Homo sapiens: one gene and its partners. The protein of the gene in region 1 binds, or shares a complex with, the protein of each later gene. Each region holds a gene or a part of one and is shown in the gene's direction. Other genes may lie near its edges.

Region 1 (7,022 bases):
AGGGAGGAGAGAGGGCCTAGGACCCCTAGAGTCCTGGAGGGCTTGTTCAGCCTGACTTAGCAAACCACAAGGCAGAGGGGATTGCCCAAGAAGCTTTCCAGGAAGGAGAAGTTTTATGTCCCACAGGAGACAGTAGGGCCAGGGCTCCCCCACTCTGTGGCCCCATGGGAAAGGAGACCCAGGGTTCCCTATGGCATGTAAAGAAAGAGACTTCTGGCCCAGCTGCCCGTGAGAAGTCCTCACATTTCAACAACTGCGAGCAGAGATAGGAAATGCATTTAGGCCACTGCAAGGAGTTGAGTGAAATATAGAGATTTCTGGAAGGCTATTGCCTCAGTAAGTGCTCTCCTGAGCAGAGGCGAGAAGCCCTTGTCTGTGGGAGACAGGCCTGTTCTCCAAGCTCCTCCATCCAGGCTGCTGCCTCTTTCTCCCCAGATGACGACCTACGGAGCCTTCCTGCACAAGGGTTCCTTCTGCCGCAATTACTTCAACATGCTGGACCTGCTGGTGGTGGCCGTGTCCCTCATCTCCATGGGACTTGAGTGAGCAGCGGCAAGGGCCAGCCCTGGGCACAGACCACCCTCTGCTCTGTGCCAGGGCTTTGTAGTGGGAGTCCCACCCATGTTGGTGGGCCCCTGCCACAAGAGGAGGGTCTCTCGGGGCCTCCGATGGAGGCAGGGGGTCCTGTGGGTTGTCACCAGCTGGAATGTGGGTTGCCACCAGTGAAGTGGGCAGCGCTCTGTTCTAGAGACTGGCAGGAGATGCAGAGAGGAGGAAGTGGTCCCTCCCTCCCCGACCCTGTGGGGAGCACAGCCCCTGCCTTTGGGGTGCTCACCGTCTGACGGGAGGGACGGAGCTTCTAGCCACCCACAGGGGAAGGCTGTCTTCTGCTTCATGACACACCCATGAGAGCATGGTCCAGATAGCAGGGGTGGCTGTGCCCTGGAGTCGGGCACACTCTCACGGCTGGAGGAAAGGGAAGGGGAAGGTGGGAGTGTTTTCAGGCAGAAAGGCAGCTGGTGTGGAGGGCAGGATATGGCTGGAGGCTCCACCGCAGACTGGGCTGGCTGGAGCAGGCTGCCCTCAGCCCCCTCACCATTGCCGCCCCCCAGGTCCAGTGCCATCTCCGTGGTGAAGATCCTGAGGGTGCTGAGGGTGCTCCGACCACTCAGAGCCATCAACAGAGCCAAGGGGTTGAAGGTGAGAGAGGGCCCGGGCAGGAGCCCCAGAGAGGAATGGGAGGGGTTACAGGGGCCTCCTCGCTCCAGAAACCTCAGCCCAGCCATGGCTGGGACCCCTGTCCCATCTCCCTGGGCAGATAGGGGTAAGGATGAGGCTGGGGTAGCTATGCTTCCCCACCAGCCTTTCCCCACCTCCAACTCATCAGGAGGCAGCAAGTCTTGCACTCCTGGGGTTTCCTCAACTGGGCTAGCAGGGTTACTGTGGGTGCACCCCCAGTCCCCATTGGCCCCTCTGTCCCCAGCACGTGGTGCAGTGCATGTTCGTGGCCATCAGCACCATCGGGAACATCGTGCTGGTCACTACCCTCCTACAGTTCATGTTTGCCTGCATCGGCGTCCAGCTCTTCAAGGTGAGCCCCAGCCTGCGCGAGCAGCTCCCCCTCCCGCTCCCAGCCCTGGTGCCCACTCTCAAGCACAAGGAGCCCCACATTGTGAAAACAGATGTCTTCGAATGCACAGATTTCCATATGAGAATATTTTATTTTGAAAAATAGGTCTTCACCACACCAAACACATAAGTTTGCAGAAAGCCAGTAAGACATCGTTACATTTAAATAGCACCTTGAGTTCCACAAAAGCAGCCCAATGATAATCTCAGAAACAGTCAATGGGCTTCTAACACTACTGAAATGGTAGCAGAGGGTCATGTGTCTACTGAGTTGAAATTTAAATACAATTCAAGCCCCATCTCTTAAAGCTATTGTCATGCACTTAGAATTCTATCAAACAAAACAAGAAAACGGTTAGTTTGATGTCCATCTTTTAAATATGACTATGAAACTTCAATCTATAAATACAACTCTCCTAAATCAAACTTTTAAGAGACAGCCATCTTTCAATGATGGTTAATAGCTTTAAGAGATCTAATAAGCTAAAATGAAAACCTGACAGCAACTATCTTAAGCTCTTTTAAAAATTAAATACACAAGCAACACAACACATTATTGAGACTCAAAGTGAATTTGCTTCAACTGAATGCACAGAGTTTTAAGGCTAATATGTGGCAAGTCCAGATCCAGTTTCCTCAGTGACATCCATCCCGGGCCTCTTGGTTGACTGCTGACCACTGTTGCCATTGTATCTGCTCTCTCCCTACCCCACGTGGCTTTTCCTTGGGGAGGGAGGCCCCTCCTCCCAGGGCCCCACAGCCATTCTTCTCCCTTCCCACCCTTGCCCGCTTCCTCCCATCCTGCCAGGCCTGTGCCAAGCATACGCCCTATCCCAGCCCCACACTCCGCCTCCGTCAGTGCAGCTGGGCTGCGGCAGCCCATCTTCCTGGCTGGTATGTCTGGCATCATCCACATCTACCAGGAGCCTCTAAGGCTGGGAGTTCATCATCTCACATCCGGAGCCAACCTTATACTTTTCTCATTTTCCTAGGAGAACACAGCTATTCAGTTCCTCTCTAGGAATTAGCCCTACAAAGATGTCCCTCACACAAACCCTGATTTCCAGATGTCTCTGGCTCTCAGATCATTTGCAGGACAGAGAAATTGATTCCTAAGTATACACCAACACCCTTGATACTTCCTGCATGACCCAGCTGCTCCTCCTATCACCAAAGCACGATCTTTCAAAGTCATAATTACATAACCCCAGTCAGTCTTAGACATGAAATGGCATCATCTTACAATCATTCATTCATTCAACAAACATGTATGGAGTATGTTTTCCATACTTGAGCCAGGGCCTCTGCTAGAGCTGAGGGCCTTACAAGCCAAATCCTCGCTGAGGGCAGGGAACAGGCTCTGAGAGAAGCAGCAGCGTGGAGCCCCTAGAGAATCTTCGCGGGGAATAGGTCTTGTTGGTCCCTGTCCTGGAGGGACGGGAGGGATGGGAGTGTTTATTGTGTCTGGCCACTCTGCCAGCTGCGTGCAGCCTTCTCCCCCTGGCCCAACTGAGGGCTGTCCACCTCCTGCTCCCCAGCCCCCTCCTCTGCCAAGCTTGGGTCCCCAGAATCCCCTGAGGGCAGTGTCTGTGTCTGCCTCATCCCTTTGCCTGGCCCCCTGCCCAGGGCCTGGTGCAGAGGAGGCCCACCAGACACGCTCCCTGAAGGAATGAATGAGCCGCTGCCCTCCCTTTGGCTTCCACGTCCCTTCCAGACAAGCAAGAGCAATTGCTTGTCAACACCCAACTCTCGCCATGCTTTTGTCTCTCATTAAAAGACCCCCAGCTCCTGCCTTCCAGGAGGTTCTAGAAGCATAACAGTTCCAGTTGGCATTTGATGTCGCTTTTGACTCTGTGGAAACACCACGTGCATTCCACATTATAGCAGAGTCAAGCTTTGCTTTCCATAGTAAACTGGGCATTTGGTGTTAAGTGCCCAGACCCTGCCCAGTGGCAGCTCTATCCACTCTCTGCTTACCCCCAGTACCACCCGCCTCACCTTCACCTTCTGCTCCAGCAACCATAAAAAGGGCATGTGATAGGAACAGCACAGATCTGTGTGGCAGGGGCAGCGGGGGGCAAGGGCCAGCTGTGTCTTCAACTAGTGCTGTGTCCTTGGCCGAGGCAGTTTCCCTATCTGGGTCTTTGAAGGAACTGCACCAGAATCCGTGGATCTCAAGCCTGATTTAGCCTCTTTAAGACCTAGCCATCCTGCTGGACGCGGTGGCTCATGCCTGTAATCCCGGCAATTTGGGAAGCCGAGGCGGGCGGATCACTTGAGGTTGGGAGTTCAAAACCAGCCTGACCAACATGGTGAAACCCCTTCTCACTAAAAATACAAAAATTAGCTGGGCATGATGGCACATACCTGTAATCCTAGGTACTCAGGAGGCTGAGGCCAGAGAGTTGCTTGAACCGGGGAGGCGGAGATTGCAGTGAGCCGAGATCACACCACTGTACTCTTGCCTAAGCGACAGAGTGAGCAAACAAAAAAAAAAAAGACCTAGCCATCCACTACTTTCCTTCAAACATGTTGCTCAGGGACCCAATCTGAGACACAGATAAAAGGAGTAACTGCCACAATGTGCACATGTACCCTAAAACTTAAAGTATAATTTAAAAAAAATTCTATAATAAATAATCTGCAAAGCCTTGAAAAAAAAAAAAAAGGATTAACTGCTCTGGCCAAAGTCAGTGCAGAGGAGCACAGAGCCCCCCTACCTGGGCCTTGGGCTGGGACATGGGACCCCGCTTGACTCTGAGACAAGTTGAGTCATCAGAGCCCAGCTGGGCTCCAACTCTGCTGCTCCCGCCCCACTGGCAGGAGGATGGAGGTGGGAGGTGGGCAGCCCCTCCTCCTTGTTCCATAATGGGAGACCACAGAAGGCCTCCTGCAGCAGTGCGGGAGGTAAGGGGCTCAGAGGCTCAGCTCCCCGAGGGAGGGGCAGGGGCCAAGCTGCACTCATGTCCATCCCCTCAGCCCATCAGGGGGCACTCAGTAAATGCCCCTCTGAGGCACTGCCTTCTCGGTCTTGGCAGCATCTAGGCTGGGTGGGGAAGCCCTGGGGGAGCTGTGGGAATGAACGATGGTGAAGAAAGGAGGCTGCTCTGGGGCCCTGCCCCAAGGGCGAGTTCACGCCTCTGAGAGGAAGAGATGGGCTTGGGCTCCTTTTTTCAGATGCCTGCCTTCCCTCCCCCCTTCCACTGTTCACTCCCAGAGCCCACTTTTCTATCCTGTTTCCATGACAACATGCCTCCCTCCCTCCCTCCCTCTTCCTGGCTGCAGGGGAAGTTCTTCAGGTGCACCGACTTGTCCAAGATGACAGAGGAGGAGTGCAGGTACATGGGGCAGGGAGCACAGTGGGACGGTCACGGGGCAGGGAGCATGGTGGGACAGTCACGGGGCAGGGAGCACTGTGGGAGGGTTACGGTCACGGGGCAGGGAGTGTGGCAGGACGATCACAGGGCAGGGGACTGTGTGTTGGTGGATGACGGCCCTTCAAGCTGGAAACTGGGGAAGCTCAGCCTTTAGGCTTAGGAGGGACACTCACAGAGGCCCCTTTCCTCGGACTCGCCCAGCGGTGTCCCCTTGGGTCCCAGATCTGGAACTTCATTTCTCCTTCACACTCCCCACCCAGGGCCCAGAGGATGTGGGTGGGGCAAGGCAGCCCAGCCATGCCCTGTGGAGTGACTGGGCCTCCCTGCCACAGGGGCTACTACTACGTGTACAAGGACGGGGACCCCATGCAGATAGAGCTGCGTCACCGCGAGTGGGTACACAGCGACTTCCACTTCGACAATGTGCTCTCAGCCATGATGTCCCTCTTCACGGTCTCCACCTTCGAGGGATGGCCTCAGTGAGTGATGGCTGGGGCCTAGGTCCCTCATGGACATGGTCAGGTAGGACCAGGCAGCCAGCCTGCCCTTCTGCAGCCCCCACGGTGCTACTGCTACCTGTGGCAGGCGTCCAACAAACCCACCAACTCTCTGATGGTTTGATGGTATGTTGACTGGTCACTCCAAAGTAGGCCTGACCAGGGGTCTCTGACAAAATGCACGCAGTCCCCCATAGGTGTATGCCTCTCTGCCCACAGGGCAGATTGTTAATACTGATTGATTAGGGATAGATGGGGCAACCTCTTGAAAGGCAGGGCCATTCCAGGATTGGGTCTGGTCTTTCCTGGCGCCGACCTAACTCCTGTCCCGTAACTTGATTGTTGAGAAGGCTCTCTTGGCTCTCCACAGCCAGTGGGATAAAGCCCATCCTTCCCAGCCTGACTCTCTGCCTTGTCACCCCACCCAGTCTGTCCTCTCTTCTCTGCCCACCCCCAGGCTGCTGTACAAGGCCATAGACTCCAATGCGGAGGACGTGGGTCCCATCTACAACAACCGTGTGGAGATGGCCATCTTCTTCATCATCTACATCATCCTCATTGCCTTCTTCATGATGAACATCTTTGTGGGCTTCGTCATTGTCACCTTCCAGGAGCAGGGAGAGACTGAGTACAAGAACTGTGAGCTGGACAAGAACCAGGTGCCTGGGCTGCCTGCCAGAGGTGGAGGGCAGAGCTCCAGCAGGCCTCCTGCTGGCCCAAGCCCTAGGTTCAGCCAGGGAAGAGAGGCCTAAGGGTGACCCCAGAACCTGCATTTGATGCCAAGCCCTAGCCTCCATGCACCCTACCCTATCTCCAAACTGAAGCAATACAAGTTGGTAGAGTGGGTCTTCTTGTGGAACCTCATGATGCCCAGAGAAAGGAAGCCCTTCAGACCCACAGTCTAGTCTATAGCACCCATGGGAATGGGCTGTGATAACTCAAGGGGAACCCAAAGCCCAACAGGATTATTCCCCTAAACAGTTCACAGTCCTCAGCCACAGCCCCTGGCCACAGCTGCTCCTGACTTGCCCGTCAATCCCATGGATGTGGGTGTGGAGAGGGAGGGAGGGGCCTCTTGGTGCTGACCTGTCCTGTTGTATGTGTCACAGCGCCAATGTGTACAGTATGCCCTGAAGGCCCGCCCACTGAGGTGCTACATTCCCAAAAACCCATACCAGTACCAGGTGTGGTACATTGTCACCTCCTCCTACTTTGAATACCTGATGTTTGCCCTCATCATGCTCAACACCATCTGCCTCGGCATGCAGGTAAGGGCTCCCCAGGAGAAAAATGTCTGATCAGACTGGGACCTGGGCCTTGGGTAGGGCAGGATGAGTAGGGCAGGATAGCCAGGATTCCCCCCAGTAGACATTTCTTGTGCACTGTGTGCTGAGGTGCTACATGGAATACAGAAGTGAACTGCGCACAGGCCTTGTCACCAGGCACTTATGGTTTATTAAGGAGGTAATTCAAGCATAAAAATAGTACGGTAATTCTGCAAACAGGAGATAGCTACCAC
Region 2 (7,323 bases), on another chromosome or scaffold:
GAGGGGAAGTTGGGGACCTGGGTCAATCGGAGTCAGCGTGTGTCTGTCTCCATGAAGGGGGGTCCGTCTCTCCCCGCCCCAGGCGCCGTCTTTGGTCTGGAGAAGGGTCCAGCCTGGGGTCGTTGGGGGTGTGAAGGGACCAATGAGCGGTCTGTCCGCTCAGAAGGGTCCAGAGAGAGAGCCAACTGGAACTACACCCCCGCTCCCCCTTCCCCCGCCAGAACTTGGGCTTGTCCTGTTTGACGCACCCGCAGAAAGGGGCGGGAGGGGTACTGACCCGAGGAGCGGTCCCGCGACTCTGTACTCCCTGCTGCCCAGTCCCGGCCAGGACGCTGCCCGGCTTAGCTGGGGCGCCCCTCGAGACCAGGATGGAGGTAGGGACGGGCTAGGGTCCCGGAAGGGCGCGGGTGTCTCGAAGGAGCCCCACGGGGTGGGAATAAGTAGAGCGCAGCCTGGGGTCTCCTACTGGGGGTCTCGAGCTGGGACTGCAGTTCCTGGAGAAAGGAGGGGGAGAGGGGTTCGTCCTGGGCTTGGGCGGTGTCTGGATCCGGGGTGCGTCCCCCCTGCTCTGGCCTGGGCAGCGCCGCCTGCTGGCAGGGCCGGACCCTGCGGCCCCGGGACCGGACACCAGGCGGTGCCGCCACCTGGAGGGCGCGTGTAGCCGCCGGGCCAGCGAGCCCAAGGGGCGCTGCAGCGGGTCGAGAAGGAGCCGCGTCGCTTCGCCTCGCCCTTCCCCTTCGCGGAGCTGAGACCCGCTGCACCAGAACCCAGGAGAGGGGGGAGACGGCAGAGACTCCGCGGGCGCGGGGCGATCCCAGCTGGGCTCTCTCCACAGGGATGCCGATCCCTCTGGAGACACAGAGCCGAGCCGGGGACGGGTGGATGGGCGCCTTGACGCTTGGGCGGGCGAGCAGAGCACCAGCACTCTTGCTTTTCGGTCCTTTCCCCCGCCGAGGTCGGGGTCGCAGCCGCCGCCGGAGGATGGGCGGCCGGCGCACGGAGCAGGGCCGGGAGGGAGCAGAAGCTTCCGCCAAGAGCTCAGGAGCTGGGGCAGCCCTGGAGCTCTTCCTGCCCTTCTGCCCGCGGCGGCGGAAACTCCAGAGTCCCTACTCTTTCTCGGGAGGACTTTAGGGAAGAAGCAGAGCGGCAGGGGAAGCCGAGGAGCGAGGGTGCGACGTGGGGATGGAAGGACAGTGGGAGGCACACGGAAAAACAGAACGAGGACCTTAGACAGGAGAGACGGAAGTGGAGAGAGGCTGGGCTGAAAGGCAGGGAGAGCCAGAGACTGACAGAGGCGGCGAGAAAGGAAGGGAGAGGGAGGGAGGGAGGAGGGAGGAGAAAGAGGGAGGGAACCAGGGGAGAGGGAAGGGAGCAGGCGGCGGAGCCCGGCGGGCGTGGGGCGAGGCCAGGCGTGCAGGCGGGAGCAGCGTGCAGAGCAGCGGCCGGGTTTTGCTCCCGCCTCGGAGCCCCTGGCCCGGGGGAGGGGGAGAGGCCGCTAGCCTGGTCTATGTCTTTTTCTGACTCCAGTGCAACCTTCCTGCTGAACGAGGTAACCGTGGGGGGGGTGTGGGGTCGTGGGAAGGGGGTTCCCCACTGGGTGGGAGGAGAGCTCCGCTCCAAGCTAGGAAGGGGGCACGCGTTTGGGGGAGACTGCACCGATGGGGAGGCAGGGAAACCGGAGGAAGTGAGGCCAGGGGTGGAAGAGGCACCGGGTTAGAGAGGAGGGAGCGGCCAGAGCTGGCAGCTTCCTAGTACTGGGATTGGATGAGAGGAGAGGACTGACTGAGGAGCCAGAAAAAAAGGGGCTAGATTACAAGAAGGGCTCTGCCAAGCTCCCCTAGCGCCTGTCCCTGAGTTCCCTGGCAGCCTAGCAGCCAGAATGGTAGGGGCCTCCACCTGGTCCAGATCTTAAAAACTGCTGGGGAGGAGTCTTTAAGTCTTCCCAGAAGGCCTAGCTTCTGTCTCAGTTTCCCCATTCAGTGCCCAGGGACTGGGATCTGCCCAGCTTCCTGGTACACTTAGAGGAGAAGCTAGAATATATTCTGAAACCTCCCAAGAAGGTTTCAATATATTCCAGCTCCCAAACCTGATTATTCAGGCTTTTCCTCTTATGTCTTGCTTCTATGACTTGGGTACCTGCCAGCTGCCAGTCTAACAACTCTCTCCTAGAAAGAATCAGCAGGAGGAGCCTCTCCCCTGATCCTTTATTGCCCTCAGCTCTCTCCCTTTATGCCCAGCCATGAAAAAGAAAAGAGGTTAGGGCTACATGGACACTGACAGGCACATGTCCTGTCACAGGACAAGAAGTCACCAAGTTGGTATTAGAACTAGAGTAGGCAGGTGTGGGTGAGAAATGAAAGGAACATTGGGTAGCAACCCAGAGATATGAGAAGAAGGAGGGAAGCTCTGAAGCTACTGCAGGACCCAGGGGATGGGCCCAGGTATGAGGAGCTTGAACCCATCTCCTGGGGATGGTTGGCATGGCAACACATGCCTCAGGAGCAGACTTAGACAACCTTGTCGCAGGAGATTACAAGGAGTGTGAGGAAGGAGTGCTGCCGATGGCAGATCCGCTGTTACCTACAGCCCCAGGACCTTCTGTGGGTGGAGAGAGTCCCAAAAGGAGAGGCCAGGAGAGTGGATGCAGGGATGGGAAGAGAAACAGCTGCCTCCACCACTGCTTTCTTCACTAGAGCCATCTCCCAGGAGAAGAGCACCTTGAGGGTCTTACTCTTTGACACCTCTCCAGGCCCCTGAAAGAAGGAATTGAAGAGAAAGGATGAAAGAGGGGGATACAAGGAATACTGCGTAACTGGGTGAGGGCACAAAAGTGGGCAGTGTCTGGGAACTTCCAATACAGAAGAATCCAGTATATGACCAAACCCCAGTTGGTGCTGGACTCAGGAGAGGAGACAGTCCCTTCAGCCACAGGGGCTGCAACAAAGTTGTTTGTCAAACCCAGCATGAGGAAGGTGCTGGGCAGGGCTGCTCTGGGCCACCCACAGTAGACAGACTAAAGATGTCAGTCTGAAGATGCAGCTCTTCTTTGTCTTGCCAAGATAACACCGATAAGTGACCCAGGTGGGAAGCCACTTGGTTTGGGTGGGCTTTCTCTCTCCCATGCACAGTGCTTTCTACCATAGATCTTACTAAGCCATGTCAGAGTTTTGGATTTCTGATTCTCCTCAAGCCAAGGAGGGATGAGCAGATTGCTGAACTCCCGGGTGTGAGAAATTGGGAAGGAAAAGGACTGAGCTCAGGGCCAAGAGCATGGGCACCAGGAGGCCTCCAAGTGTAACCCCTGTCTACGCACATCCTCCTCGTGGGGCACAAAGGTAGGCAGTCAAAAATCAAAGAAGGAATTTTGCTCAGGAGATGAAAAAAGGAAAGAGCTCAAATGGGTGGATCTTTGGGGAAAGTTTCCTCAAGATAAGGGCTGCGGCTCTCTTACCCCAAATCTCAATGCTCCTGTAAAGGAGACTGAGTGGTGCAGAGTGGTACAAGCCCTTCTGCTAAGGGGAGAATCTGGCCTTACCCTAGTGACTCCGAGGAGACTGGCCCTTTCCTCTCCCAACCCGAGTGTAGCCAGGATCCCACCCACAACTATCCCCCTACCTCCACCCTCTGGCTTCTTTCCCCTTCCCTTTAGGCTCACCTAAAACAGCCCCTTTCTGCCCCAGTTCCCACGGATGCCTTGGCACTGTCTGGCACAATCCTTGGCAGGGAAGTGGGGAAGGGAACCCCCATCCTGGCAGGACTAAGACAAAATCTATCCGTGCAACAGGTGTGGGGAGGCCTACCCAGCTCACGGAAAGTTCCCCCCTTCTCAAGGGTTGGGCAACACCGCCTTTGCCGCAGCGTCCCCGTACTGAGGGGGCCGGGCACCTGTTGGGGCAGGAGCTGCCGTCCTGTCATTAGCCTGGGGGCACCAAGCCCATTCCTCCCCGGGACCACTGCGGGGTTTGCTTTCGGAGCCTCCGGGACGCACGGGCCCAGACCCGCCCTGCTGTCGCCTGGGACCCCTCCCCCGTCTGCCGCTCGTTCCCGCGCCTCTTCTGTCTCCCACGGTCTCCCCATTTTCCTGTCCTCTCCGTCCTCCCTCTGCCTCTCTCTCTCCGGTTTCCTCGACACCTGCGCCCTCTCCAGTCTCCGCCCGGGTCGCGTCTCCCTCGCGGTCTCAGCGCCCCCTCCCTCCCCCGCCGCAGCCCTTTGTTTCCCGGCGGAGTAGTTCCTGGGTTGCCGAGCGTCTCTGTCTCCGCATCTCTCCTCGCCCCGCCTCCTCCCTGCCTGGATCCGCCCTGCCCGCAGCCTCTCCTCCCCTTCCTCCCCGCCGCCACGGCCCCGTAGGTGCTCGGGGACCCACCTTCCACCTAGCACGGGTTCGTTCCCCTCTCCCGGCCTGGCCCGGGCTCCCCGGTGGCCGCCGCCCCCTCGCCGCCCCCGCCTTCTCCCGGGGAGGGGGTCAGGTGGGCGGGCACTATTGTTGTAGGAGCCGGCGCCAGATTCCTCAGCCGCGCTCGGGGTGGGACCGGCTGGGTTTGGGGGGGTGGGGTGGGGGGAGCGGTGATCTGAGCTCCGAGCAGCTGGTCTTCGCGGCTCGCTCCCTCCTTCGCGCTCTCTCGCTCCCTGCCGCCGCCCGCAGGGCTGCGGGGCTCGGTGGCATCTCCCGGGCGCGGCCCGCAGTCCTTGCCCCTGCCTCCGGGCCGCTCCCGCCCCCGGCGCCGCTCGCTCCCCCGACCCGGACTCCCCCATGTATGACGACTCCTACGTGCCCGGGTTTGAGGACTCGGAGGCGGTGAGTGCCCACGATGAGGGTGGGGGCGGGGAAGTTGGGGTGACACCTCCTCTCCCTTCAACCCTTTCCCCGGTTCAGGACTTTGAAAAACGCCTCAGTGGCAGGGCAGGGTTTGTAGGGGGGCGCTCTAAGAACGTGGGGAGATGGATTTTCATGCCAAGCGTTCCCCAGCGACCCAGACTCAGACCCTGGGGCATCGGGTGTGTGCAGAGAGGGGGCAGTATAGGGGAAGGGCTCAAGCAGGTGGCTCCACGGCCCAGGAAAGAGGGGTGGGAGAAGGCAGGGCTGGAGGCCGAGGGCACAGAGGCTCTGGAGAGGGAACACGCCATGTCTGGAGTTCCAAATTCTGGATTTCTGGGGTCTGAACACAACAGCTAGGAGAGCCGCCGAGGTGGTTGGGGAGGCAGACATTCTAGACCTCTTGTGCCTCAAGCAAACGACACATCAGGGAGCTGAGAGGACATCAGGGAGCCAGGGGCCAACCTCTTCAGACAGACGGATCCTAAAACTTGAGGAGCTCCATTATTCCCTTCCACCCCCTCCATCTCTGCGCATTGCCTCATCTCCTCACCCTTTCTCTAGCCCAGTTTCTCTCCCAGGCTGAAACCTGGGCGCCCAGCACATGGGTAGGCCAGGTGACTGAGCCCCATCTATTCCACAGCCCCCTGCTGAGGCTTCCTCTGCAGCGGGCATCCTGAGCTCTTGCCCAGCATGGAGGGCCTGGAGGTGAGGCCAGAGGAGCTGAGGGCCTGGGGATGGAGAGGAAGCGCTTTGCTCAGAGAAACAGGCAACCGATAAATATTTAATTCTCCTCTTTGCTTTTATCTCCTGACCCACTGAGACAAATCAGCTCATTAAGCAGTGATTCCCGGAGCTCAGACAGCAGGGAGAGTGCCTGGAAAGATGGGGCAAGAATGCGGAGCAGCTTCTCAGCCCCTTGGAGCTGACAACTTTCCCTCAAATGTCCTGTAAGAAGGCCTCCTTAGGAGTGGACCACTAGATGGCTTGGAAGGGGCCCCAATAGGTTGGAGCACCCCTGGGTCGGAAAGAGGAGTTCATGTTCAAGTCTTCTCCCATCACTTACTGCCAGGCCCAGGATAGATGAATGCTGATGTTCAGAATAGGCAACTGTCCTTTTCTGGGACTGGTCTCCTTCTGGGCCCAATTCTCCATGGGGCCTCTGGGGCTAATTACATTGCCGCTAGATCAGATCATTTTCAAGGCTCTGGTGGACACCTCTTTCTGACAGTTGAAGGGACAGCTGGTATAGCCCAGGGTGCCAAGGTGAGCTTGAAAACAAACCTCTCTGTGGGGCTGGATGGCCCTAGGAGGTTCTTCCCATCCCTGGTGAGAAGGCAAGGGCTATTGCAAGGAGCAGACTGACATGTGGATGGTGTTGGAGGGCAGCCTGCTGACCCATTGCTCCCTCCCATCTCTCTCTGGCTCTGATCACCCTCCCCCACTTCCCTTTCTCTTGCCTGGCTCCTTGCTCTCCCTGAGGCCCCCTCTGAAGCAGTAGGAGGGAGATCAGGCTCTAAATAAATCCAACGGCTCATCTCCCTCCTCTCCTTCCCCCGTGCCAGGCAAGAGAGGAGCTGCAGCCTGCCCACACACTCACTAGGCAAGGGGGGCACCACCAGGGCACTGTGCCAACTCCTGGCAGCTCCAAAGTACTGAAACTCTGGCTATTTTGGCGTAGCAGGGTACAGGAAAGGTAAGACCCTAGATCATGCTTGGCAGGGCAGCCCTGGCCTCCCCAAGTAATACTGGAGCACTAGAGATGAGTGAGCCTGGAGGACTTGGGAGTAATGGAGAGGGGGTTCCATTCTGAGCACAACTCATTAAATATTTAGGAAGAGATCCTGTGATTCCCATCCCAGGGTGAGAGGTCAGGTAAGCCAGATGCCTCAGGCGTTATGATTACTAAATTAGGCCGCCAGCGGTGCCTCACACCTGTAATCCCAGCACTTTGGGTGGCCGAGGTAGATCACTTGAGGTCAGGAGTTGGAGACCAGCCTGGCCAATATGGTGAAACCCTGTGTCTACTAAAAATATAAAAATTAGCCCAGCATGGTGGCACATGCCTGTAGTCCCAACTACTCAGGAGGCTGGGGCAGTAGAATTGCTTGAACCCGGGAGGCAGAGGTTGCAGTGAGCCGACATCGCACCATTACATTCCAGCCTGGGCATCACAGTGAAACTCCATCTCAAAAAAAAAAAAAAAATTACTAAATTAAACCAGGCATAGAGACTCATGCCTATAATCCCAATGCTTTGGGAGGCTAAGGTAGGAAGATGGCTTAAGCCCAGGAGTTTGAGACCAGCCTAGGCAACATAGCAAGATCCTGTCTCTACAAAAAACTAGTAGGCATGGTAGCGCATGCCTGTAGTCGTAGCTACTCAGGAGACAGGAGGATCGCTTGAGCCCAGGAGTTCAAGCCTGCAGTGAGCTACGATTGTGCCACTACACTCCAGCCTGGGTGACAGAGCAAGACCTGTCTCTAAGTAAATAAATAAAATAATAAAAA
Region 3 (7,255 bases), on another chromosome or scaffold:
TGCCTCAGCCTCCCGAATAGCTGGGATTACAGGTGCCCACCACCCCATCTGGCTAATTTTTTGTATTTTTAGTAGAGATGGGGTTTTGCCACGTTGGCCAGGCTGGTCTCAAACTCCTGACCTCAGGTGATCCACCCGCCTTGGCCTCCCCAAGTGCTGGGATTACAGGCATGAGCCACCTCACCCAACCTGTCCATCTCTTTACGTACATTAACTCATGTAATCCTCAAAAGAGTGCTAAGAGATGTATCATTATTGCCCTCATTTTAATCCAACTCCTCATTTCAAACTAATCTAATCCAATTCTGCCAGTCTGACAAGAAGGAAACTCAAGTACCTTTAGAGATAGACAGCTCTCTGCCCAAGGTCACAAAACAGGAAGCAAAAGGCAGAGCTGGGCTGAGGACTGGTCTCTCTTCATGTGCTAGACATTGTGCTGCATGCAGATTTGAAGTCATCCCTGTCCCAGGGCTCCCAAGAGCCCACTGCCCACTTTCCCAACAAGAGGCACCCCAGTAGTTCTATTGCCACTTCTGAGGGAGCCCTCCAGAGTGTGGCTGCCATTCATCCCCCCGGCAGCACCTGGCCCTCGCTCTGCCTGCCCCTCGTTTCTACCCTCCGAATCTGAGATGGGGCAATGCTCCTTCCTTCCCAGGAGAGGCTGGCCAGGCTGCTTCCGCCTCGTCTCTGATCCACTGCAGTGGGAGTTGTCAGTACTAAGAGCAATGACTCAGACTTAGTTCAGGAGAGACCGCTCTGAAACACAAAGGCTGCAGGCCAGGAAGGACATCGAGAGGTCATGGCATCCATCCCCCTGCCTCCGCCATGCTTGCCCCACCTCAGGCTTCTGATGTCCAGACTAGATGAGCCCCACAGTCCTCCAACTTCCCTGGCTTTCCTCGGTTGCCAGAACTACGGGTTCCCCTGGGAATTCTTCTCTGTATCTAGTTAGCATCTCTTTGTCCAGGAATCACCACTTCTGGGTTGGTTACCCCACAGAATACCAGGCTCCAAATGGCCAAGGAAAGTGAGAGAAGGAAGCGGTTTTCTTCTCTCTGCCTCAGAGAAAGCACTGGGAAGGGACAAATTTCCCAGAAGAAAGGAGGGAAAGAAAAATAATGGCCGGGCACGGTGGCTCACGCCTGTAATCCCAGCACTCTGGGAGGCTGAGGCGGTCAGATCATGAGGTCAGGAGATCAAGACCATCCTGACTAACACGGTGAAACCCCGTCTGTACTAAAAATATAAAAATTTAGCCGGGCGTGGTGGCAGGCGCCTGTAGTACCAGCTACTTGGGAGGCTGAGGCAGGAGAATGGCGTGAACCCGGGAGGCGGAGCTTGCAGTGAGCCGAGATTGCACCACTGCACTCCAGCCTGGGCGACAGAGCGAGACTCCGTCTCAAAAAAAAAAAAAAGAAAAATAATGGACTTTCCTTGACTAGACGTGGTGGCGTGTGCCTGTAATCCCAGCACTTTATCGGGGAGGCCAAGTCAGGAAGATGGCTTGAGGTCAGGAGTTCAAAATGAGGCTGGGCCAACAAAGTGAGACCCCCATCCCTACCAAAATAAACACTTTTTTTTTTAAAATAAATTTTCCTGTCTTGTCTTCCTGTCTTGTCTGGGCTAAGTGCCACTCTACACTATCTCATTCATTCTAGCAGTGGGGTAGGCACGATGACTATTTTTCAGATGAAGAAACCAAGGCTATAGGCCAGACACGGTGGCTCATGCCTGTAATCCCAGCACTTTGGGAGGGTGAGGCAGGTGGATCACCTGAGGTCAGGAGTTCCAGACCAGCCTGGCCAACATGGTGAAACCTCTCTCTACTAAAAATACAAAAAATTAGCTGGATGTAGTGGCGGGCACCTGTAATCCCACCTACTCGGGAGACTGAGGCATGAGAATCGCTTGAACCAGGAGGCGGAGGTTGTGGTAAGCCGAGGTCCTGCTATTGCACTCCAACTTGGGCAACAAAAGCTAGACTCCGTCTCAAAACAAACAAAATCTCTAAAAGATTGAGTTATCTGCCCAAGGTCACACACTTAATTAGTGACCAAAGAGGTACTGGCCCCTAAGGAACCCAAAGCCCCTGCTCTTTGGGAGGAGACAGGGGCACCTCCCCCAGAAGATCTCCAAACTCAGAAGAAGGCCCTGTGTGTTCCAGCCCAGGATAAGTGGAGGGCCTGATGTTGCTGTCTCAATGCTGCAAGCATCCCAGCATCTGAGCTGCCCAGGGAGGGAAGGCTGGACTGGCCTGGGCTGGGCAGGAGTGAGAAGGACAGTCCAGTGGGAGATGGGGGAAGGTTGGCCATGAACAGGCCTTTGGGGAGACTGATTTGATGGCACTCAGGCTCCATCCCACCTTCCTCAGGAAATCTCGAAGTCAGAGCCCCTACAACCATGAACCCTCACTGTGCCCTTGTCCTACTTCTGCCACTGGCAAATAAATCTCTATTCCTGGACAGGGTAACCTGAGCAGGGCTCCAATGGTGAGCTCGTGCTTGGGAGGGCAGAGATCCTATGAATGGCTGTGTGCATGGGGGGAGGTGAGTGGGGGGTGGAGGTGTTCACCCCACCCCTCAACTTTCAGGCTAGCATAAGGGCCCCCTTCAGCACCTCAGGCCCCCCATGTGGCACCCCCCACCCACAATCTTACCACCCACAGCAGAGGAGGAGGGAGACTTAAACCCAGAAGTCTCTCCACCCACACCAGGGAAAGGTTCTCTCAGCCACCAGTGCATCTCCCTTTTCTTGGGCAGACCAAGAGAGGAAGCCAGATCTGCTGGTCAGAGCCAGAAGGGGCAGAAGGAAAGAGGGCTGGAGGTGAGGGAGGGGGACCTGAGAAAATGGGTCCCAGATAATCAACATGCATTAGAAGAGGTATCTTGGTCAGGTGTGGTGGTTCACACCTGTAATCCCAGCACTTTGGGAGGCTGAGGCAGGAGGGTCACTTGAGCCTAGGAGTTTAAGACTAGCCTGGGCAACATAGCGAGACTCCATCTCTACAAAAAATTTTAAAATTAGCTGGGTGCAGTGGCATGTGCCTGTGGTCCCAGCTACTTGGGAGGGTTGAGCCCAGGAGGTCCAGGCTACAGTGAGGTGTGATCAAGCCACTGCACTACAGCCTGGCCAATAGAGCAAGATCCTGTCTCCAAAAAAAAAAAAAAAAAAAAAAAAAAAAAAAGAAGAAGAAGAGAAGGAGAAGAAGAAATATTGGAAATATCTTGAACGGGCACAGTGGCTCACGCCTGTAATCCCAATACGTTGGGAGGCCAAAGTGAGAAGATCGCTTGAGCCCAGGAGTTGGAGATCATCCTGTGTAACATAGCAAGACTTGTCTCTACCAATAAATTTTAAAAATTAGCCAGGCATGGTGGCGTATGCCTGTGGTCCCAGCAACTAGAGAGGCTGAGGTGGGAGGATTGCTTGAGCCTAGGAGTTTGAGACTGCAGTGAGTTATGATCGCACCACTGCACTCCAGCCTGGGTGAAAGAGTGAAACCCTGTCTCTAAATAAAAAAATAAAAAAATAAAAAATAGAAGGTTATTGTGGAGAGAGGGGCACCTTGGAAGGTGATGGTGAGGACCTCTTCCCCCACCTCTCTGTATTATCCCCTGATCTAACTCCAGTTGTGGTAGGATCTTTAGGAGGGGAGCGTGTCTCAGAGAAGTTTGGGGACTTTGGGTGTGAGGACTGAGCCCCCATCTCTGCTGAAGTTCAGACGCCAAGACTGGAAGGGGATAGAGTCATCCGGCTTTCCATCACAAGGAGGAATTGTCCGGCCTGGCCTTTGACACATACACCATAGTCCAGTTGTGTGTATATTTGGAGAGAGCCTTTTCAGGGTATAAAGGCATCCAATTAATGGCACAGATGGGTCCCCATTCTTCCTTCACCAACCTCTGGCATCTATCAATCTTCGCTCTTTGGAAGTCCTAGCTTCGATCTCACTCTCCGCTATCTTGCTGCGGCCCCAACCTATTTCTATTCCCTGCAACCCATCCAGACGCTACTATGATCTCCCCAAGCTTCCCTCAATCTGGTCACGCCCCTCCATCCCGGGTTTTTCAGTGTGAAACTCCCTCCTCCGCTTCTTTCCCCGCCAAGCCCCGCCCCATCGTGTCGAGCCCCCCAAGACTCCGCCCAGTTCGCCCTCCTGGCCACCGAGGCAGCCAATAGCTGAGAGCCTGATTTGCAGGGCTGCGCGGGGGAGCGGCGTAGGGCAGGGGGCGGGACCAGGCGACCTCCTAAATCAAAGTTGGGCGGCGAGGACTGGGCGGAGGGGCCGCCGGGTGCCGGGCTGGGGCCGGCGGGGGAGGGGAGGGGATGGGGGGCGGGCGCAGCGGACGGCGGAGCCGGCTGGACACGGACAGCTCCTTGGCTCCCTCCCTCGGCTCATCCCCGCGGCCCCACTTCCCTCCTCCCCGCGCTGCGAGCAGCATCCTCTGCAGACCCTCGGTCCTCGCGCCCGGGGTCGTCCCGCTCCTGCGGCTCAGCGTGGTGGCCTCCCCTCGCCCGCCACCCCGGCAACTTTCTCTGCCCGCTCCCGCGGGTTGGGGGCTGCCGTGCCGGGGGCTAACTGGGGGCAGCCTCTGGAGAACGGCTTCAGAGTCCCGGAGACGCCCGCCACCCGCAGCCTGCCCGCGGTGGGCCTGCCGTCGGATCTCGGCACCCTCTCCTCCCCTCTCCCCGAACCATGACCGAGATGAGCGAGAAGGAGAACGAACCGGATGACGCGGCCACCCACAGCCCCCCAGGGACCGTCTCCGCCCTCCAGGAAACCAAGGTAACTTGGGGGGCGCAAGGCCTGTCCGCGCCCCGGGCCCGGGCGCCCTCTTCCCGGCGGGGTCCTCCTGTGGGCCCGGGCGTCCTAGGGTCGCGGTCGCGAGGCCCGCGTGACCACTGAGGCTCCGCGCCGCTCCCGGGGGTAGGAGTGGGTTGGCGACGAGGGGCCACAAGGAGCCCCCGATCACACCGGCACCGCACGCCCGCGCGCGCCATCGCGACCTTCTGGGGAGGCGGCCACTGGTCTTCGTTGGAGAGATGGGCGCAGCGAGGCCGGAGGGCGCGCGTGGAGCGGTGCGGGCGGGGTACGCGCCCGGCTGTGCGTGCGAGGCGCACCCTCCAGCGGCCGCCGGGTCCCAGTCCCGGGCTCAGTCCGCGCCTCTATCCTCGCTCGTGTCTCTGAATTTGTCTCTACAACCTGCGTGTCTGTGTCTTGGTGTCTCTGTGTGCGTCTCTCCCCGTCTCTCCCGGCGTCTCCGGGTGTTTATCTCCGCGTCTCAGGGCGTCTCTCCCTGCCCCTCCGCAGTCCTGCATTCCCCGCTCCTAGCCCTGTTGGGCTCGGGGACGCGAGGCCGCGGCCGGGGGTGCGCAGCTGCGGAGTCCGCGAGGGGGCCTGCAGCAGCGCCGGCCGTCGGTCACGGGCGAGGACGGGGGCCTGCGGTTGTGGCTCCAGACCAGAAAGACAGGCAGCCCCGCGCCCCACCACGGGAGCGGGACCAGAGGAGGGGGAGCGGGTAGAAGCAAAAAGAGAAGTCATCGTAATTAATGAATGTCATCATTAACCCTAATTATGGATGATTGTTACTCCTGAGGGAGTCACCATGAATAAATTACTCCCCGCGAAGGCAGGCGGAGCCCAGACTCCTGGCGCTGAAAGGGGTGTGGGGAGGCCGCCGCTCACACTCAGCACTCCCCCGACCTCTAATCCGTCTGCTCCCTTCCCAAGTTCTAGGTGCTGGCGACTGGCCCGCGAGAAGTTCTGTTTCTGCGGGATCAACCTGAGCGGGCCTGGGGTTGGGATAGAAAGGGCTGTGCCAAGGGCGCGCCCTGCCACCTCCCAGACTTCAGGCCAAGACCTCCTCCCTCCCCCTTCACCCGGTATTTTGTTCCCATCCTGCTCCTGTTCTCCAGAGGCGAAAGGGGACAGTGAGGACCAGAAATGATGGGAGCCTGGGCTCCGGAGGCGTCCTGGGTTCGCTAGGCTTCTTTCCACTGTCCCCCTTCCTCCTTCTTCCATCTTGACCATCCCGCAGGAGCTGAGGTTAATTCAAGGTCAAGGTCATCAAGGGAGTGACCGGAGGAGGAGGCCGTAGGGTCAGGGTGGAGTCTGGCAGAGGCACCCCAGGGAGCCCCCATCCTGCACCAGGGGACCCAGCAGGTCTCCACATTCAAGTCTTCACATGCACACCTGACTCTCTCTTGCCCCCTTCTAAAAATGAGACTCTGGTCTGTGAGGCCAGAGCTGACTCCCCTTTAGAGAGCCAAGTCTCAGTCTCTCCTGGGAAAGGACTAAGATGTTTGGGTGGGAGGATATTGCTTGGAATATTTGTGACAACTTCTGTCAAGCAGAAGGTCTAGGAGCTGAACCTCCCCTGAGTTCCAATGCCCCTGATTTCGGTTGCCCTCTAGTCACCTGGGTAGACATACACAGTCCCCCTGCTTGCCTCCAGGGGCTTGGGGGCCTCCCAGGCCCTGCCCTGTTTCCCACACCAAGGCCTGTCCTCTCCAGCCTCCTCCTATGTGGGAGTGCTGGAAGGCGGGCAGGAGTGTGGGGTAGTGCTGCCTCAGTACTCCAGCAAGCTGCCTGCTCAGCTGTGTGGGGAGGGAAGGTCAAGGGCCACAGGTCTGTACCTCTCCCTCTTCCCAGGCCAGGGACCCTCCAATGTTGTCACCTCTGGGTCTGAGCTTGGAGATTCAAGGAGTAGGGGAGGGGAGGGGTTACACCCCTGATCCGGCCCTTCTGTGTCAGGCCAGCTGGAGCCCCGGCCCTCCGCCCCTCCCCTATACATCACTCTTGTGAAGGATTCTGCACTAACACAGACTGGGCTGTGGGTTGGGTCGGGGGTATTCAGCAGGGCAGAGGTGGGCAGAGAGAGAACTCAGGACCCCTGCTAGCCTCCTTCCATCCTGCACCTCAACCTGGCCCAAAGAAGCTCCTGTCTCCAGACTGTGGGTGGAGATGGAAGAGTACAGTTGGGTGCCGCCCACCAAGCTCAGTGTGAGGCAGGTACAACAGAGGGGGCCAATGCCCTTCAGGCAGTGATGCCAACATTCCAGGCTTATTCATCAGTGTTGGTGCCCCCTGGGAATCACTGGCCAGCCTCCTGCTTGCCCCCAGGCTGAATCAGCCCTGCACCCAAGCCACCCAGCAACCTTCCTAGCGAGTCCTCCTCCTCTCTTGGTCTCCTTCCCTTCTTATCACATAAGGCCTGCCCATCACCCTTTGTTGCCACCCCTGGGAGGACCACCC
Region 4 (7,022 bases), on another chromosome or scaffold:
GCAATTGTCTTCTATGAAGCCAGCCAGCCAGCCATTAGAGAGATGTGTAAAAATGTAGCTATTTTTATTAAAAAAAATTCGGCCGGGCGCAGTGGCTCATACCTGTAATCCCAGCACTCTACTAGGCTGAGGTGGGAGGATCATGAGGTCAGGAGATCGAGACCATCCTGGCTAACACAGTGAAACCCCGTCTCTACTAAAAATACAAAAAAATTAGCCGGGCGTGGTGGCGGGTGCCTGTAGTCCTAGCTACTTGGGAGGCTGAGGCAGGAGAATGGTGTGAACCTGGGAGGTGGAGCTTGCAGTGAGCCGAGATCGCACCACTGCACTCCAGCCTGGGCAACAGAGCGAGACTACATCTCAAAAATATATATATATATATTTTAACATGTATCAGATTTATTGTGAATTTTTAAATAAATGTTTTAATAGTTTTCCATTTTAGCTTCTTTAAAGAGGTTGTGAGATAAAATGTTTGAGAGCTGCTAGCATAGAAAAAATGTGAGTGCTTAAAGCTTGCAACTGTGATTTATGTTAACATGTTAATTTTGCAGATAATCTTATAGCTCCATCTATTATAAGCCCCTTGTGCTGTATATAAAAAGGCCCCAGAGAAAGGAGTCAATAATGTACCTTGTACTTTACCTGGATGTAGTTATTACTCTGTTAAAAACTCATTATCTTTTACAGGTTTTACAAAGGTTAATAAAATCTCGAGGGAAATCTCAAGCTAAACACCTCAACGTCCAGATGGTAGCAGCTGATAAACTGGCTCAGTGTCCTCCAGTAAGTTATCTCTATATACAGCATAATCCAGTTACAGAGATCAGACCTTTTTTTTTTTTTTTTTTTTTTTTTTTTTTGGGGGACAAGGTCTTGCTCTGTTGCCCATGTTGGGAGTGCAGTGGTATGGTCTTAGCTCACTGCAGCCCTGAACTCCCGGGCTCAAGTGATCCTATTGCTTCAGCCTTCCAAGCAGCTGAGACTATAGGTGCATGCCACCATGATCGGCTAACTTTTTTTTTTCCCCCTGTAGAGACGGGGTCTTGCTATGTTGCCCAGGCTGGTCTAGAACTCCTGGCCTGAAGTGATCCTCCTGCCTTGGTCTTCCAAAGTGCTAGGATTACAAGCATGAGCTGCCATGCCTGGCCAGAACTGGCATTATATTTTGAAAAAAACAGTCAAACACCTGTCAGGGAAGAGAATCCTCATCACTTACAGTGGTATTCATTCCAAAGTAAACTGTCCTCCCTCCTTCCATGATCATGTGTTTTGAGCACAAGTAATCCAAACGATGATCATAGCTTACCAAAAGCTTCCGTACATCCTGCAGTAACTTCACTTTGTTAATATCCAACACAAGATCCTGGTTCCGAAAATTTGGCTTGTATGATGAGTCTATTTGGAGTTGGTATATTATTCATTTCTGATCATAGGGATCAAGTTGTCTGCTCTTAATAACTGTCTGAGACATTTATTTTCACATGGTCTCAAATCAATTTCTAAGTAATAAGTTACCTAGATTCTCACTTGTCGTCTATGCTTTACATGCAATGCCTTGAGGTATTAGAGCTTTCCTAGGTTTAGTTTTGGAGGCAGGGTCTTGCTTTGTTGCCCAGGCAGGAGTGCAGTGGTGGTGTCTCAGCTCACTATTGCAACCTCTGCCTCCCGGGCTCAAGTAATCCTCCCACCTCGGCCCTCCAAGTAGCTAGGACTACAGGCAAACGCCACCATGCCCTGCTAATTTTTGTATTCTTAGTAGAGACGGGGCTTTGCCATGTTGCCCAGGCTGGTCTCAAACTCCCGACCTCAAGTGATCCATCCACCTTGGCCTCCCAAAGTGCTGGGATTACAGGCATGAGCCACTGCACCAGGCTTTTTTTTCTTTTTAAGCATAGCCATTTCAGGGTCTATAAATATTTGATTGCTTAATATATGTTAAAATTTATAATAAACACTAAAAAATCTTTTGAAAAGTGGCATTATTTTCTTCTCTACTGAACTACTGTGAAGTTTGGACAATGTCAAAATTTCACATCCTAATCTTACCTTATTAATTTCTAAATTCAGATTTCATAATCTTGGGCCGGGCATGGTGGCTCATACCTGTAATCCCAGCACTTTGGGAGGCCGAGGCGGGTGAATCACTTGAGGCCAGGAGTTCAACACCAGCCTGGCCAACATGGCAAAACCCCATCTCTACTAAAAATACAAAAATTAGCAGGGCTTGGTGGTAGGCACCTGTAACCCCAGCTACTTGAGAAGCTGAGGCAGGAAAATCACTTGAACCTGGGAGGCCAAGGTTGCACTGAACCAAGATCAGGCCACTGCACTCCAGCCTGGGTAACAGAGTAAGACTCTGTCTCAAAAAAAGAAAAAGAAAAAAGATATCACAATCTTTATGTCAAGAACAGGCTTCTTCCTATTCTATTCTATTCTGTTCAAATATATATACATCTCTTTTCTACCATAGTATCTATGCCTTTTTCATTGCTGATTGATAGACAACTTTTCTGGGTTGCCATGTCCTTAACAACTGTTACCTTTCTGGCCATTATTTATTAGTTAAGCATTCAGTGCCCTCAACAATGATTTGAGGTAGTCAGACACTTCCTAACTAAATAAAAAGGGAGATAGTAGCAGCACTTATAGAAGCAGGAGCAAGTACAAAGGGGTGCAGCTCATGAGCCCCTTCCTCCTCTTATGGAGGTGGGAAGGGGGTGAAAACTGGGCTGGCATCAATGTGGTCTGGAATGTCTGCCTCTGCAGGAGCTGTTCGATGTGATCTTGGATGAGAACCAGCTTGAGGATGCCTGTGAGCACCTTGCCGACTATCTGGAGGCCTACTGGAAGGCCACCCATCCTCCCAGCAGTAGCCTCCCCAACCCTCTCCTTAGCCGTACATTAGCCACTTCAAGTCTGCCTCTTAGCCCCACCCTAGCCTCTAATTCACAGGTAAGGGGAGTTTTTATATATATCTATATATACAATCTTCATAGAAAAAAGGTTGCCTATGGTGACACCTCTAGGATCCAAGCCCAGTAGCCTGCTTGGGGCTTGTTCTAGTATATTAACTCAAAGCAAGTCCAGCATGAGCTGTGTATGTACCTGTAAGAAAAGCACCATCAACAGAATATATTGGGAACATACACAGACTACCGAAACTTTCTAAACAGTAGCATAGACTGTGGAAGTGGATCACCTAGATTCAAATCCTGGCTGCACCTCTTACCACTTGTGGGGTGGATAACCTGGGGCAAATTTCTTAACTGTTCTTACCTCAGGAATAATAATGGCAACCTGTCCAAGAGGCTGCTGGAATTAATAATCTCAAGAGATGATCTTATAGGGCTGTTGTATTAATGAGTTATTATATACAAAGGGTCTACAGAACAGTGCCTGTCCCATACTGTATCACTGTATCAGGTAAGCATTTGCTATTTTTAATATTCTCACATACAGTCAAGCAGAGGTAGTTAAGTTTACACCGCTGTATAGAAAAATCTCAGGGACCTGCATCTGTATTTGAGCCACAGGAGAATAAATAAAAGAACATTTTCCCTGCTGCTGCTTTTTTTTTTTTAAAGGAAAAAGTTACCATGGGCACTGTTCTAGGCACTTACAAAAGTCCAATTTAATATAGTATAGTATAAAGCCTTATAAATGCCACTGGATGTTACCAAAGGGATGAAGCTAGGTTAGACTTCATTTCAGCTTTTCGGATGCTTAAAAAGGACTCTGCTTGAATGCACTTGCTCTGGGACATGTTCTTTACACACTGACCTTGGTTAACGCCTGGTGTGCTCCTTTCGCTGCCAGGGTTCTCAAGGTGATCAGAGGACTGATCGCTCCGCTCCTATCCGTTCTGCTTCCCAAGCTGAAGAAGAACCTAGTGTGGAACCAGTCAAGAAATCCCAGCACCGCTCTTCCTCCTCAGCCCCACACCACAACCATCGCAGTGGGACAAGTCGCGGCCTCTCCAGGCAAGAGACATTTGACTCGGAAACCCAGGAGAGTCGAGACTCTGCCTACGTAGAGCCAAAGGAAGATTATTCCCATGACCACGTGGACCACTATGCCTCACACCGTGACCACAACCACAGAGACGAGACCCACGGGAGCAGTGACCACAGACACAGGGAGTCCCGGCACCGTTCCCGGGACGTGGATCGAGAGCAGGACCACAACGAGTGCAACAAGCAGCGCAGCCGTCATAAATCCAAGGATCGCTACTGTGAAAAGGATGGAGAAGTGATATCAAAAAAACGGAATGAGGCTGGGGAGTGGAACAGGGATGTTTACATCCGCCAATGAGTTTTGCCCGTTTGTGTTTTTTTTTTTTTTTTTTTGAAGTCTTGTATAACTAACAGCATCCCCAAAACAAAGTCTTTGGGGTCTACACTGCAATCATATGTGATCTGTCTTGTAATATTTTGTATTATTGCTGTTGCTTGAATAGCAATAGCATGGATAGAGTATTGAGATACTTTTTCTTTTGTAAGTGCTACATAAATTGGCCTGGTATGGCTGCAGTCCTCCGGTTGCATACTGGACTCTTCAAAAACTGTTTTGGGTAGCTGCCACTTGAACAAAATCTGTTGCCACCCAGGTGATGTTAGTGTTTTAAGAAATGTAGTTGATGTATCCAACAAGCCAGAATCAGCACAGATAAAAAGTGGAATTTCTTGTTTCTCCAGATTTTTAATACGTTAATACGCAGGCATCTGATTTGCATATTCATTCATGGACCACTGTTTCTTGCTTGTACCTCTGGCTGACTAAATTTGGGGACAGATTCAGTCTTGCCTTACACAAAGGGGATCATAAAGTTAGAATCTATTTTCTATGTACTAGTACTGTGTACTGTATAGACAGTTTGTAAATGTTATTTCTGCAAACAAACACCTTCTTATTATATATATAATATATATATATATCAGTTTGATCACACTATTTTAGAGTCTTAATGCCAAGTCAGCAGATTTGCTTTATGAATTACAGGGACTAGAAATGCCCACATTCAGGAAATTTGTAATAACATTGTCTAGACACCTATCCTCATTCTAGTAGAAAGTGTGTACATACTGTAAATATGTGTGATTGCTTGACTTGAAAAGGTTTGAATTCTGAATGTTATACCATCCTTGTAAGTAAGTTTGTAATTTCCACCATAAATTATGGTAAATATAAAACTCCAGAGGTTGTTCTACTCCATACAGTTCACACTGATTGTGACACATTCTTAGTAGCTAGTGTCTGTTCTAGTCACTGCACTGGAGTCTACGAGCCGGAACTCGCTATATGCACGTGTGTGTGTCCGTATGTAAGAAAGTGTGCACCGAGTGACTGAATGGTTGAGATGAATTGGAATGCTGAAGACTAACGAAGAAACTAGAGACTGATATCGAGCATTCTGCCCACCTCGCTCTGTATTTAATTAATTGTGCTATATGTTGCTTTAACAACCCATTGAGCAGTCAGGGAATGTGAGTAAGCTTGCTGCCAAAGGTAACTAGGAAAGCATTCATCTGCTGCCTCCTTGTTTTTGCTCCTAGAGAGTGAAAATACAGGCAATTTTACTGTGAGTGTTTCACTGGAAATGTACAATCTTTGTGTGTTAGAGTATTTGTTTTAGTAAGAAATGTTTACACAGCTTGTGGAATTATTTCGTGGGAAAATAAATTTTTATAACTTCTCCCACTTCAATTTCTAACCTTGCCTATTGTTCCTGTTGTTTGTTTACCTCCCAGTTACCTACCATTCCTCCCCACCACCGACTCCAGCAGGTTCACTGTCTGTCAGAACCCAGAAGTGCTTCTTATAACCAAAGTTTCTGTTCTTCAGAAGAAATCAGGGCAAAATGGGGTGACTTGAAGTGAATAAAATGTTAAGAATATTATCCTACATAAGACATGTACACAGAAGGGGAACCTTGAAGACATTATCTCCATGCCTCAATTACACTGCTGTAAGAAGCTTACAATGTCATCATGTTTAAGGCTAAGACCTTTTCCGTGTCTCAAGTGTATATTTTGTCCAGTTATAACTGGATGGTAAGACAGTATTAAGAGTGCAAGTACCTGGCACTTGAAGTTTGTCCCAGGAAAATGCCTGTGTATAATTACCTAACTTCAGATCTGCACATTAACTTATTTAACAAAATAAATCAGCCGGGCGCAGTGGCTCATGCCTGTAATCCCAGCAATTTGGGAGGCTGAGGAGGGTGGATCACCTGAGGTCAGGAGTTCAAGACCAGCCTGGCCAACGTGGCGAAACCCCGTCTCTACTAAAAAGATAAAAAATTAGCCAGGTGTGGTGGTGCACACCTGTAATCCCAGCTACTTGGGAGGCTGAGGCAGGAGAATTGCTTGAACCCAGGAGGTGGAGCCTGCAGTAAGCCAAGATCACACCACTGTACTCCAGCCTGGGTGACAGAGTGAGACTCCATCTCCAAAAAAGAAAAAAAAACAAAAAACAAAAAAAACTATCCAGCAAAATTATAAAATCTACTTTGTTTTGCTTCCTTGATTATTCCAAGTTCTTACCAAATATTCTTAGCCTTTTATAAGTAAAACTGTTTTACATTTAACTCCTTATTTCCCTTACCCCCAAGAAAACGCAATATTAAAAATGATTAAGCTGGGGTGGTAGAGTATACCTGTAGACCCAGCTACTTGGGAGGCTGAGATAGGAGGATCCCTTGAGCCCAGGAGGTGGAGGCTGCAGTGAACCGTGACTGTACCAATGCACTCCAGCCTGGTGACAACCTGGTGTTTAAAAAAAGAAAATAAAAATTAGTTACATATATAATGTTTTATCAGCTTATATATGAAAAAATTTCCCTCAGTTCGTTAATTAGCCCTACACTGTTTACATAAATTTATTTACTGAGTATAAAATCAGTAGTCATAATAAACTTGACAATTCTTACATTGGTAGGAAACCATATTCTAATTAAAATTGAATTTATAAAATATTTCTGATAAAACTTTTGTCATGGTAAGAGATTCACAATTATTAGT

Evidence for each region.
Region 2: CACNA1S (region 1) and CACNB3 share a complex: the UniProt entries of both Homo sapiens proteins name them as parts of the calcium channel complex.
Region 3: the proteins of CACNA1S (region 1) and STAC2 are in contact, whole or in part, in a crystal structure (PDB 6B27), measured with the Homo sapiens proteins. Residues at the interface, in NP_000060.2 of Homo sapiens: Glu749, Pro750, Glu751, Ile752, Pro753, Ser755, Pro756, Arg757, Pro758; in NP_945344.1 of Homo sapiens: Tyr301, Lys302, Phe303, Gln306, Glu307, Asp310, Asn326, Asp328, Trp329, Phe340, Pro342, Asn344, Phe345.
Region 4: CACNA1S (region 1) and CACNB2 share a complex: the UniProt entries of both Homo sapiens proteins name them as parts of the calcium channel complex.

Annotation. Positions count from the first base shown.
Region 1 is NC_000001.11:201,060,407-201,067,428, reverse strand, and holds part of CACNA1S (voltage-dependent L-type calcium channel subunit alpha-1S), read left to right. Parts: intron 1-435; coding exon 436-542; intron 543-1,112; coding exon 1,113-1,200; intron 1,201-1,483; coding exon 1,484-1,591; intron 1,592-4,914; coding exon 4,915-4,967; intron 4,968-5,338; coding exon 5,339-5,485; intron 5,486-5,960; coding exon 5,961-6,162; intron 6,163-6,612; coding exon 6,613-6,771; intron 6,772-7,022. UniProt on the Homo sapiens protein: Pore-forming, alpha-1S subunit of the voltage-gated calcium channel that gives rise to L-type calcium currents in skeletal muscle.
Region 2 is NC_000012.12:48,814,180-48,821,502, forward strand, and holds the start of CACNB3 (voltage-dependent L-type calcium channel subunit beta-3), read left to right. Parts: upstream 1-4,316; 5' UTR 4,317-4,750; coding exon 4,751-4,795; intron 4,796-4,866; exon of another isoform or gene 4,867-5,763; intron 5,764-7,323. UniProt on the Homo sapiens protein: Regulatory subunit of the voltage-gated calcium channel that gives rise to L-type calcium currents. Increases CACNA1B peak calcium current and shifts the voltage dependencies of channel activation and inactivation.
Region 3 is NC_000017.11:39,222,944-39,230,198, reverse strand, and holds the start of STAC2 (SH3 and cysteine-rich domain-containing protein 2), read left to right. Parts: upstream 1-4,253; 5' UTR 4,254-4,696; coding exon 4,697-4,786; intron 4,787-7,255. UniProt on the Homo sapiens protein: Plays a redundant role in promoting the expression of calcium channel CACNA1S at the cell membrane, and thereby contributes to increased channel activity. Slows down the inactivation rate of the calcium channel CACNA1C.
Region 4 is NC_000010.11:18,535,411-18,542,432, forward strand, and holds part of CACNB2 (voltage-dependent L-type calcium channel subunit beta-2), read left to right. Parts: intron 1-690; coding exon 691-786; intron 787-2,769; coding exon 2,770-2,955; intron 2,956-3,783; exon of another isoform or gene 3,784-3,819; coding exon 3,820-4,314; 3' UTR 4,315-7,022. UniProt on the Homo sapiens protein: Beta subunit of voltage-dependent calcium channels which contributes to the function of the calcium channel by increasing peak calcium current. Plays a role in shifting voltage dependencies of activation and inactivation of the channel.